Linked DNA regions of Homo sapiens: all the other regions are linked to region 1. The links come from fine-mapping of genetic effects on gene expression. A gene starts in region 1. Each other region holds a variant in brackets. All regions are shown on one strand. Distances are between the middles of the regions. Region 1 holds the start of TELO2 (telomere maintenance 2). Region 2 overlaps IFT140 (intraflagellar transport 140). Region 3 overlaps IFT140 (intraflagellar transport 140).

Region 1 (4,131 bases):
GAGCCGGCTGGGGCTGGGAGTCCACATGGGACACGTGTCAGTGATGACAGCTGTGCTTCCCTGGAAAACCTGGAACGTCCCCAGCTGACGGGCTGCCTCTGCCGCCTGGGATGTGAACACTCCCACCCCATCCCTCTCTGACACAGCCGGACGGGGAGCAAGTGGGGGACTTTGTGAGACACAGCAGGTGCCTCCCGTCGCAAAGGAGACAGACACAGACCGCTTCTTCTGTTCAGGGGTTCAGCCAGGAGCAGGCTCTCTCTCTAGCCCCTCACAGGGACTAGAGAGGCTCTTGGTCCAGTCCTTCAAGCCACTCTCATCACTTCTGAGGCTACCGGCAACCCCAGGATGGGCCCAGCCCACTCACCCCGCAGCACCCTCGATGGTCTCCATCAACACCAGGAAGGCTTGGTCCGCCGGGCCCTCCAGGAAGAAGCTGGCCCACAGCTCCTCCAGGCGGCCATGGGGCAGCAGCTCCAGCCAGGCTGGGCTCAGCCTGCTGGCAAGACATCTGAGGACAGGCGAGAAGTGGGCCGAGGCAAACTCCTCCTTCTCCCTCGGGAGCGCTGGAGGCTCCATCTCACCGAGATACCGCTTCAGGGACTCCAGGGTGCAGAAGATGTGGCCGCCATCCTCCGAAGACGAGAGGGCATGAATGGCTTCCCGGACGGCGAGTCGAACCTCTGAGGGTGCTGGCTCCATCCTGCAGGACAGATCTGGGCGTCACGGGAAGACGACCTGTGACATGGACACAGGGCTCAGCTTGGGGCACGGAAATAATCCACACAAGCTCAGGAAGCCCCTCGGTGAGCGCCCCGAGACCCCACACCCCTCAACCCTGGTCCCACCCAACCCTGTCCCGCCTCCTTCCCCTCCAGTGCCTGCCGGTTTCCACCCAGAGTTCGCTCCTCCGCTCGGACCCCAACGCTACCAGCCACTGCAGGGCTTCTCAACCCGGGCCACTGTGCCCAGGGAACATTCTCAGTTGTCTCAACCGGGAGTGCCACTGGCGCGAGAGGGAGGTGGAGGCTAGAGATGCTGGTGAGTGTTCCCCGGGCACAGCGCGGCCCCACGCGTCCTCGCACCCAAGGCGGGAAACTCGGCCCGCGGGAGCTGCCGGCCCTCCCGGCTCCCTGAGCGGTGAGAGGTGGCTCCAGTCGCCATTCCTCCGCCCCTTAGAAACCAACAGCTTACGGGGAACACGGGTTCGGGGCTAGAGGAGCCGCACGCGGACCCGCCCCCGATCCAGGCCCGGACCCCGACCTGTACCCGGACCCCGACCGGACTCCTACCCGACCTGGACCCGACCCAACCAGACCTGGAGCCCAACCCGACCCAACCGGACCCCCGATCCCCGATCCCCGACCCCCAACCCGACCTGGACCCGGCTCCCGGGTGACTGCAGCGCGCTCAGGCGCCGCGCGCCACCGATTCGCTGCAGCCGATTCCCCACGGCCGCCGCGGCCCCGGACGAAACGCGATCGCGGCCCAGCCGGTTGGCCCCGAGCACGAGTTCCTGGGTCCGGGCGAGGCTCCCGCGGGTTTTCTTGAGCCTCTGGGGCGGGTCTCCGCGGGCCTCTCAGCGCGAATCTGCGGAGGACGCCAGGCGGGAGGGCGCATCTGCGCCTGCGCTGCGCGGGGACGGGGCGGAGCCTGGACGCGGGAGCGGGGGGCGGTGGGGTGGGCGGGGCCTGACGCGTGAGTGGGGCGGGGCCTGAGGGCAGGGCCGCGCTTCCCCACGTGGCTGCGAGCTGGGTTCGCTGCGCCCGGGTGGTGGGTTCTCGCCTTAGTTTCTCCCATCTCGGTCGTCCCTACCCTGGAGTGATGTCAGCCGTCTCTTCCCTCCGCCTCGGGTCCCACATTCTCTCCAGAACGCCGAGCGTTCGCTCTAAGGCAGATGTTTACCAAGACAGGCCTGGCTCGTCTTCCCCGGATGTAAGGCTCTGCTTTCAAGGGTCAGAGGCCAGTAAGGGAAACGCACGGTACACAAGGAAGTAAAAGAGCAGTTGAGATCATGTCAGATCTGAACAATTGCAGCTCCGTAAATGAGGCCGGGTCGTGGAATAAAAACTGCGACCAGTAGGGTAAGCGCTAGACGCATGTGGCTCTGTAAATTAACTGAAGTTAAATAAGTCCAGTTCCCTTGCAGCACTAGCCCCATCTCAAGGGCTCGGTACTACCTTTGGCTGTGGCCGCCAGGCTGGACAGCCGGACACTGAACATTTACAACATGCAGTGCCTTCTGTACACCGCAGCGGAGTGTGGGGGGCTTCATCTTTGTGGAGGGGGCAATCCAGGAAGACACCTAAAGAGGCGCCATTTCAGCAGTGATGGATGTGGGAAAAGCTGGGGAACAGTTATCCATTCAACAAACATTGATTAAATGCCTGCTTGGTGCACCAAGCCTTCTGAGCAACAAATGATGCAAAGTTCCTGCTCACCTATCGGGGGAACAGATAAAGTACATACGAAATATGCCAGGTGACAGGCCTCGAGCAGAAAAACTGGCAGAGGCCGGGCCCGGTGGCTCACGCCGGTAATTCCAGCACTGGGAAGCTGAGGTGGGAGAATCGTTTGCACCCAGAAGTTCAAGAATGGGAAAAATAGTGAGACCCTGTCTCTACAAAAAATTTAAAAATTAGCCAGGCACGGTGTCATGAGCCTGTGATCCCAGCTACTCAGGAGGCTGAGGTGGGAGGATGGCTTGAGCCCGGGAGGTTGAGGCTGCAGTGAGCCATGTTCACTGCCACTGCACTCCAGCCTGGACAACAGAGCAAGACCCTGTTTCAAAAAAAAAAAAGGAATCAAAATAAAAAACCGGTAGGGTAAGAAAATAAGAGCCAGTGGCCGGGCACAGTGGTTCACACCTCTAATCCCAGCACTTAGGGAGGCCGAGACGGGTGGGTCACAAGCTCAGGAGTTCGAGACCAGCCTGGCCAACATGGTGAAACCCCGTCTCTCCTAAAAAAAGAATAATAATAATAATAATAGTAATACAAAAATTAGTTGGGCGTGGTGGCATGTGTCTGTGATCCCAGCTACTTGGGAGGCTGAGGCAGGAGAATTGCTTGAACCCAGGAGGCAGAGGTTGCAATGAGTGGAGATTGTGCCATTGAACTCCAGCCTGGGTGACAGAGCGAGACTCCTCCAAAAAAAAAAAAAAAGAAAAGAGCCAGAGAGCAGTGGGTGCTGTCTTACGTAAGGTGAGAGCTCTGAACAGAACACCTTAGAGCAGAGCCCTGAATGTGTTGACAGCCAGGGAAGAGTCTCACTGGCAGGAAAACGGCAGGTGCAAAGGCCTGAGGCCGCAACTGTTGCCCGGGAGGTGGAGCCGAGGGAGGCATATGCAGGGGTGAGGCCTGGAGGGAGTGAGGCAGTGGGCCAGGCCACAGAAGGCCCTCGCAGGGACTAAGATTTTGCTTGTGTGGCAGGCATCTCCTGGAGCCATTGAAGGCACGGGTCCATGCTGGTGCAGTTAGGAGAGCAGACGGTAGGGGGGCGACACGGACGAGGGGACTAGGTGGCCATTGTGAGGATGAGCTTGGGGCGGAATGGGGGTGTAGAGAAGCAGCTGAACTCAGGGCATGTCTCTGCAGGCAGAGCTGATGGATGGGATATGGGGCAGGCAGCATCCCATCATCCCGGAAACTCCTCCTCCGTCCGCTGCTGGGTTCCAGCCCTCGCCAGTGCCCACGGCAGCTCCGTCCTTCCCTATTCCCTTCTTTTCCTGAAGCCCCGCATCCAACAGTGGGTGCTTGGAGGACAAATTTCTCAAGCCTTTGTGTGTCTGAAAATGTCTTTATTCTTTGCTCTGTCACCCAGGCTGGAGTGTAGTGGCGCGATTTCAGCTCACTGCAACCTCCTTCTCCCCGGCTCAGGCGATCCTCCCGCCTTAGCCTTCCAAGTAGCTGGGACTGCAGGTGCACACCACCACGTCTGGCTGATTTTTGTAATTTTAGTAGAGACGGGGTTTTGCCATGTTGCCCAGCCTGGTCTCGATCTCCTGGACTCAAGTGATCTGCCCACCTTGACCTCACAAAGTGCTGGGATTACAGGAGAGAGCCACCACACCCTGCCCCGACCCACAACTTTAAATGGAAATCAGGCAGGCTCAGTGGCTCACGCCAGTAA
Region 2 (4,154 bases), 21 kb before region 1:
ACCCCATCTCTGAAAAAAATAGCAAGGCATGGTGGCATGCACCTGCAGTCTTGGCTGCTTGGGAGGCTGAGGTGGGAGGACTGCTTGAGCCCAGGAGGTTGAGTCTGCAGTGAGCTGTGATAGCACCACTGCACTCCAGCCTGGGTGACAAAGCAAGATCCTGATTCAAAAAAAATCCTGATTTGACAGATTTTTTTCCTTTCAGCACTTGAATGTTTTCCCTGTCTGGGCCTCCATTGTTTCTGGAAGAGTCAGCTATGGGCTGTCTGTGGGGCCCTTACATGTCATGTGTCTCTCCATCTCCCACTGCACTGGCTGCTGTCATGACTTTCTTCTTGAATTTGTGTTTCAGCAGTGCGATAATGATGTTCCTAGGTGTTTTCATTGTATTTATCCTGGGCTTTTGGGATCTATATTTGTGTTTTGCCAAATTTGGGAAATTTGCTCTTTTTCTCCTTCTGGGACTCCAATTAAATGTTAGGTCTTCCATATCTAGTAGACACACATTTGTGATTACTGCTCATTATTTTCTTTTTTTCTGTCCTTTGGATTAATTTGTATTTATCTAGACTTTCTTTAGCTATCTTCAATCTGCTGTTAACCTCTCCAGCAATCTTTTTAGAGCTTGTATTTTGCAGCCCTAGAATTTACACTTAGTTCTTTTTATTATTTATTGGCTAAAATTCCCTATTTGTTAATTTGTTTAAAATATATTTTATATTTATATCCTAAAGCAGAGTTGTAACTGCTGCTGTAAAATCTTAGCTACCGGTTCCAATATCTGGGTCATGTAGGATTGATCTCCATTACTTGCCTTTTGAGTATGGGTCAAATTTTCCTGTTTCTTATGTCTAGTCATTTTTTTGTATCATGGACATTGTGGATAATCCATTGTAGAGACTCTGGATTCTGTTACATTCCTCCAAAGAGTATTGCTTTTTTTTGGTTCATTTTATTAGGCAATCACCTTTGCTCAGCTCAGAGCCGAAACTCTTTCCCCTGTGGTGGATAGCAGCTGAAATCCCTGCTTGTAGCGTGAGTTGGCTTAAAGTCTGCACCTCCCCTGCCTCATGTGTAGTGTGGGAGCAACTAGTGACGAGGGCAGCATATGCTCAGGATTTGGGATCCCCTCTATGCCTGCTGCATCCCAACGTTTCCACCTTCACATTCCAGCTGCTGTGGTCAACAAAAATCTTTTATTTATTTATTTATTTATTTATTTGAGATGGAGTGTCGCTCTATCGCCCAGGCTGGAGTGCAGTGGCGTGATCTCGGCTCACTGCAAGCTCCGCCTCCCTGGTTCATGCCATTCTCCTGCTGCAGCCTCCCGAGTAGCTGGGACTACAGGCGCCCGCCACCACGCCCAGTTAATTTTTTTTGCATTTTTAGTAGAGACGGGGTTTCACCGTGTTAGCCAGGATGGTCTCGATCTCCTGACCTCGTGATCCACCCACCTTGGCCTCCCAAAGTGCTGGGATTACAGGCGTGAGGTACCGCACCTGGCCAACAAAAATCTTGATTCTGATTCTTTAAGCCTGGAAGAGGGCAGGCTTCGAGGTGGCTGATGCCCACACTGGCCCTGACTTGGGCCTACCCTGAGGCAGAAAGTTGTGAGAAGCAGCCGGGTGCAGTGGCTCACGCCTGTAATCCCAGCACTTTGGGAGGCCAAGGCGGGCAGATCATGAGGTCAGGAGATGGAGACCATCTTGGCTAACACGGTGAAACCCCGTCTCTACTAAAAATACAAAAAATTAGCCGGGTGTGGTGGTGGGCGCCTGTAGTCCCAGCTACTTGGGAGGCTGAGGCAGGAGAATGGTGTGAACCCGGGAGGCGGAGCTTGCAGTGAGCAGAGATCGCACCACTGCACTCCAGCCTGGGCGACACAGC[A/G]AGACTCCGTCTCAAAAAAGAAAAAAAAAAAAAGAAAGTTGTGAGAAGCAGGAAGCCTGCCCAGTGCCACCCACTCCCAGCATCAGCCTGCTCACGGCTGCCCCCAGTGCCTTTCCATGTGTCCGTCGTCATTAGGGGGAGGGCTGCTCTCACAGGAGTCGTGCTGCTGTTGTCAGAAGCCTCTCTTCTCATTCTTTTTTCTTTTCTGAGACAGTCTTGCTCTGTTGCCCAGCTGGAGTGCAGTGGCATGATCGTGGCTCACTGCAACCTCCGCCTCCTGGGCTCAAGCAATTGTCCTGCCTCAGCCTCCCAAGTAGCTGGGACTACAGGTTCCCGCCACCACGCCCAGCTAATTTTTGTATTTATTTATTTATTTTTTAGTAGAGACGGGGTTTCACCGTGTTAGCCAGGATGGTCTTGATCTCCTGACCTCGTGATCCGCCCACCTCGGCCTCCCAAAGTGCTGGGATTACAGGCGTGAGCCACCGCGCCCGGCCTCTTTTTCAACCATAATTCTGTTGTAGCCAACATAGAGAATTGCACGCGCCTGCATCCGTCAGACCCTGCAGCTATGCCGATGCCTGCAGGGCCTCTGCACCCACCAGTTGTGTTGCCCTATTAGATAGTTCCCGGGACTCACAAACTGAGTATCGAGAAATGAGCTTGGGAAACATGCTGGCGACCGTGTCGGGCTCGCTGGGCTGCAGCCTCCAGAATTCACAGGAAAGCTCCTTGGCAGTGGCTCTCCCTCAGGGCTGAAAGGTCAGCTCCGTGAGACACAGACTTCCTGGCCCGGTTGCTCACTCCCCTCTGCGCCGTTCCACTTCCATTCACTGACCCCTTTTGCTGCTGGAAAAAACAACTCAAGTCTAATCCTAACAAGGTTTCTTTTTTGTTGTTGCTTGGTTTGGTTTTGAGACGAGGTCTTGCTCTGTCGCCCAGGCTGGAGTGCGGTGGCACAATCACAGCTCCCTGCAGCCTCAGCCTCCCGGGTTCAAGGGATCCTCGTGAGTGGCTGGTGTGCAGCACCGCGCCCTGCTCCAACGGGGTTTCTATTTCTAGGAGAACTATAGTTTTCCGTATAAAAGCAAAATTGGAGTAGAGAGATGCCCAGACTGCTATATCCTCAAAATTAACAGGAAATCCACATTTTAAATATTTCGCCAACTTCTTTATTCTCTCTATGGTTGCTTGAAGCCTGTGGAATTTAGTAACTCGAGATACAAAAGAAAAAAGAAACTGGGAAGCGCAGCTAAACTGAGAATGCCCAGGCACACGCTCCCTGGCTGCTGCTGTAGCGCCACCCGGGGTCACGTGCACCACCTCACCCAGGCCACAGCTCCTATATCCGCTCAGCTTTCCCGCCATCATCCATCATCTGAGCACAGCCCGCACACACCCTCCTGATGCTGGAGACCGGCAACATTTCTGTCCCCACGTCCTGCCCTCCACCGCCCCTCACCCACCTACGCCGCCTGTCCTGCCCCCCATCCTGCCCCCCACCCACCTATGCCGCCTGTCCTGCCCCCCATCCTGCCCCCCACCACCCCTCACCCACCTATGCCGCCTGTCCTGCCCCCCACCACCCCTCACCCGCCCTCCGCACCTTCTGCCTGCCTTCTGGAAACCACTTGATTGCCCTCTCCGAAGCTAGCTCTGCACACAGAGCAGTCACACGCACCAGGCCCTGGTTGCATCAGGACGCCGGCCCTTTCTGACCACAGGGTCCCTCTTCGACCCTGGTCAGCTCCTTCCTCTCTCTCCCTCCCTGTGCCAGCCCTTCTCTGAATTCTGCCACTGCAGGACCTCGGCCTGACCTGGCTCCCCACTACAGCATTACCCAAGCTTGTTCTGTGCCCTTACGTCCTGTGTCCCCTGTGTCCCCAGCACAGCGCCTGGCACATGGCAGGTGGTTTGTCAGCATGTAAGGCAGCATCTTTTCAGGTGTGGATGTTTGCCCTCAGCCTCTCGTTTGAGACTGTGTGGAAGGCTTGCACTCCACCAGCGCCCACCCCAGCTGAGGCCTTCCTTAAACGCAGGTCCACTGCCAGGTGATGGGAGGGGCCATCCAACAAGCTTATTATATCTTCATAGCTGAGACTCCATCTCAAAAAAAAAAAATACCCAAGCCAAACCAGTAGATATCGCTGCCTGCCCTCCACTCTGACATATGCATGTCCACCCGCAAGACTCGAGTGCAGAACGCGGGGCCTCTGCCTCCCCAGGAGGCTCTGCCCGCACACGCACGGTGAGCAGGCCTGTGCACA
Region 3 (4,154 bases), 26 kb before region 1:
AACATTGCAAAACCCCGTCTCTACTGAAAATACAAAAACTGAGGTAGGAAGATCACCTGACCCTGGGGAGGTGGAGGCTGCCGTGACTGCACCACTGCACTCCAGCCTGGGGGACAGAGTGAGACCCTGTCTCAAAAATTTAACTTTAAAAATTCAGAATTATAGAAGAAAATTACCAATTTCCTTTTCTCCCAAACGTAATATTCTCTTGAGCATATATCACTTGAGACTATTGTTTCCTTCGTTCCATTCTGGAATGTTAACAGCGTGAGAAAGTAACGTGAATGATTGTAGGTTGGTGAGGCAGGGGAGACATCCTTGTCCCCTCCATACCCACCCCAGCTAGACAGAAGCCGCCGCTGAGCCGAGGGGCCTGGTTTCCTCTGAAGCGGTGGCAGATGAGGGGCGCACTTCAGTTCCCGGCCCCCTCGGCAGCCCCGTCCCATTTCTGCACCTTTGCAGTATCAGGAAGCCCTGCAGCTGTGCCTGGGGCAGAACATGAGCATCACCGAGGAGATGGCGGAAAAGATGACCGTGGCCAAGGACTCCTCGGACCTGCCTGAGGAGTCGCGGCGGGAGCTGCTGGAGCAGATAGCAGACTGCTGCATGCGCCAGGGCAGCTACCACCTGGCCACCAAGAAGTACACGCAGGCCGGCAACAAGCTGAAGGTGAGCCTCTCCCGGCCCCAGCCCGCGGCTACCTCACAGGCAGTTAGGCTGCGGGCCCCCTGCACGCATCTCCATTTGCCTTCGTGATGACCCCAAGCTAGGGCTGAGCCTTTCTGGCCAGGAAGAGCACAACCACTAAGATCTCTCTCTACCGGGCAGCCCTGAGCCACTCTTCTTGTGAGAGCTCCTGCTCGGGGTCCCTTGTGCTTGTCCCGGCCCAGCCCCTGCTTGCCTGAGCCCCGCTGTCTCTCTGCCTAGGCCATGAGGGCGCTGCTCAAATCCGGAGACACGGAGAAAATCACGTTCTTCGCGAGCGTGTCCAGGCAGAAGGAAATCTACATCATGGCTGCTAACTACCTGCAGTCCCTGGACTGGCGGAAGGAGCCGGAGATCATGAAGAACATCATCGGCTTCTACACCAAGGGGCGGGCCCTGGACCTCCTGGCTGGCTTTTATGACGCTTGTGCCCAGGTGCAGGCCCTCCCTGGCATGCCAGCGGGGCCCCGGGGAGGGCTGTGGAGCCCGGCAGGTCTTGACGGGTTTCATCTGTACAGGTGGAGATTGATGAATACCAGAACTACGACAAAGCCCACGGGGCGCTGACCGAGGCCTACAAGTGCCTGGCCAAGGCCAAGGCCAAGAGCCCCCTGGACCAGGAGACCAGGCTGGCGCAGCTGCAGAGCAGGATGGCACTGGTGAAGAGGTTCATCCAGGCCCGCAGGTGTGCCCCCGGGGCCAGCGGGGACAGGCCAGGGCAGATGTGACTACAGGGCCGGGGCTGACCACGAGAAACCCCAGCCAGCAAAAGGGCAGGACAGCAGATGGGAGCTCACTTGGGACAGCACTACTGCTGAAGACACACCCCACCTCCTCCTGGGAGCCCTCAGAGCCCGGGCACAGCCTTGGGAAGGTGTTCTGGAAACACCAGAGACGCTGAGAGAGAAACCTGGTGGGGGAGTGGGAGGAGGAGGCAGATGTGGAGCAGGAGAGGGTGTGTCTGGGGAGCCACAGACCTGCTGAGGGTGTGCAGGGGCCGGGCAGGGGAGTCCTGAGTGAGTGCCGCTGTGTGACCTGGGGTTGGGGGACCATGGTGACCAGAGGGCTCATGCCTCTCCACAGGTCAACTGCCACCAGCTCCAAGCTTGTGGAGAGGAGACCCAGGCAGCCAGCCGATGGTCTCGGTTTTCAGGAGAGGCC[A/G]AGATGCTAAGTTTATTTGAACACCTCCCCATCTTTATTATGGGCAGGTGACTCAGCTTTTCAGAGAGCTGCTGTGTGGCCACCACGGTGGGCACTCGCCTGTGCGCTTCAGGGCCCAGCTTCTGTCTCAGCTGGCAGGGCTGTTTTCCTTATCGGAGAACCTTTTCCAAAACAAGAGTTCCAGAAGTCCTTTGAACAAGGTCGTACAAAGCGGTGCCCCTTGGAAGGGCACGGTCCACCTGCACGTGTCGATTCTGGGGTATCAGCGTCTCACAGATGTCTGCTGAGCTGAGGCCACAGGGCAGGAGCGGAGGAGAATCGATAGCAGCTGGTCATCAGGGATAGCACAGGACGTGGGTGGAGGGGAGACGACGTGTGAGGGCCAGGGTGGGCAACCTTCTATGGGCCAGGGGTCAGAGGGCAGGCCAGGCGCCTGTCTGGAATGGCCGAGTCAGTGGGTGGCCAGATGGGCCCTGGACCCTCCTGACATGGGAGCCTGAGCTCCACACGGCTCCAGTCACCTGCCCTGGACCATGTTGTGTTCCAGCAGGCTCACCTCCCTGGTGTCACCCCAGCTCACAGGCCACACACCCTGCTCTGCCACAGACCCTCACGCCAGGTCACACACGCAGCCTGTGTGCGGGCAGCCTCTCTGCTTGGAGGGTTCTTCCCAGCGGCCTTGGGCAAGGGGTGCCGTGCGCCTCTCCGTGTACCCTGTCCACATGCACCACATCCCCTCTGGGTCACGCTTTGTGCAGAGGTTTCTAGCCCCCTCTGGACTGTTCCATAGAGCAGGAACTAGGGGTCGGAAGTCTTTGGTCTTCAGTCCAAGCATAGGACCCAGCATTCAAGTGATCAGTAAGAATGTTACATGGATGAGTTAATTTATGAATGAACAAATTAAGGAATTAATGAATTTAACTTCATAGAAAGTTTCCTCCTGCCATTCCGGAGAGCTCCTCTTACAGGCCAAGAGTCTCCTCTGACCTCTGATAGCAGTAGGTGTTCAGGGCTTCGGGGCCCAGGCCTCATCTCTGCTCTCGGCAGGACGTACACAGAGGACCCCAAGGAGTCCATCAAGCAGTGTGAGCTGCTCCTGGAGGAACCAGACCTGGACAGCACCATCCGCATCGGGGACGTCTATGGCTTCCTGGTGGAGCACTACGTGCGGAAGGAGGAATACCAGACGGTGAGGCCTGAGTGCTGCTCACTAGCAGCATCCCGCCACACAAGGCTCCTGAAACGAAGGCTTAACGGCTCAAACTGAGGCTGTGTGTGGCGGCTCACTCCTGTAATCCCAGCACTTTGGGAGGCTGAGGCAGGAGAATGACTTGAGCCCAGGAGTTCAAGAGCAGCCTGGGCGACATGGTGAAACCCCATCTCTACAAAAAGGGGAAAAATTAGCCAGGCATGGTGGCTCACACCTGGGGTCCCAGCTGCTTGGGAGGCTGAGGTGGGAGGATCCCTTGAGCCCAGGAGGTTGAGGCTGCAGTGAGATCTGATGGCGCCACTGCACTCCAGCCTGGGTGACAGAGCGAGACCCTGTCTCAAAAGAAAAAAAAAATCTGTCGGTAGCAAAAAGTAACAGTCTCACGCTGTTACTGGCTGTTACTAGCAGTGTCGCAGGAAAGCGACAGACTTACTTTATTTGTGAAGAAATGTCTGCATGTACCCGAGTCTGAATAACCACGATTTCTTTTTCAGGGATTTTCACAAAAAAAGAAAATGGTGTTCCATTTTTTAGTCGCTTATTTTTTAATTTTAGAGACAGCGTGTAGTCACTTTAAAGTGACCAGCTAATCACTTATTCAGCCGCAGTGTTCTAGCGTTTTCCTCATCCCCACCAACATTTGATCATTCTTTCGAACTGTAGCCATCCTAGGGGGTGAACAGTACCTTGCTGAGGTTTAAATTCACATTTTCTGGATGAGTAGTGATGTGCAGCTCCTTCTCATGTGCTTATTATCCATTTACACACCTTCTGTGAAGGCTTCAAGTCTCTTCTCATCATTTTATTGGGTTTTCTTATTATTGTACTTTTTTTTTTTTTTTTTGGAGACGGAGTCTCACTCTGTTGCCCAGGCTGGAGCGCAGTGGCGCGATCTCGGCTCACTGCAAGCTCCGCCTCCTGGGTTCACGCCATTCTCCTGCCTCAGCCTCCCAAGTAGCTGGGACTACAGGTGTGCATCAGCATGCCTGTAGAGATGGGGTTTCACCATTTGGCCAGGCTGGTCTTGAACTCGTGACCTCAAGTGATCCACCCGCCTCCACCTCCCAAAGTGCTGGGA

What was found. PIP is the estimated chance that this variant, and not a neighbour inherited with it, causes the effect.
Region 2: its variant is the best candidate, but not a certain one, in a credible set for the expression of TELO2 in nasal epithelium (TOPMed, PIP 0.75).
Region 3: its variant is the best candidate, but not a certain one, in a credible set for the expression of TELO2 in skin (TwinsUK, PIP 0.82).

The regions. Positions count from the first base shown.
Region 1 is chr16:1,490,853-1,494,983 of GRCh38, reverse strand. TELO2 (telomere maintenance 2) reads right to left here and starts at 1,624. Exons shown (of 21, transcript NM_016111.4): 1 at 1,379-1,624; 2 at 368-738. The coding sequence starts at 702. RefSeq lists enhancers at 1-17, 919-1,819, 1,917-1,966 and silencers at 1,187-1,386, 1,397-1,446, 1,617-1,706.
Region 2 is chr16:1,511,438-1,515,591 of GRCh38, reverse strand. The region is part of intron 30 of IFT140 (intraflagellar transport 140); the gene reads left to right. Among named protein-coding and RNA genes, the nearest start is that of TMEM204, 20 kb to the left of the region's middle. The variant A/G (reference allele first, on the strand shown) is at 1,888.
Region 3 is chr16:1,517,117-1,521,270 of GRCh38, reverse strand. It overlaps IFT140 (intraflagellar transport 140), which reads left to right. Exons shown (of 31, transcript NM_014714.4): 27 at 463-669; 28 at 928-1,140; 29 at 1,224-1,390; 30 at 2,914-3,055. Among named protein-coding and RNA genes, the nearest start is that of TMEM204, 14 kb to the left of the region's middle. The variant A/G (reference allele first, on the strand shown) is at 1,867.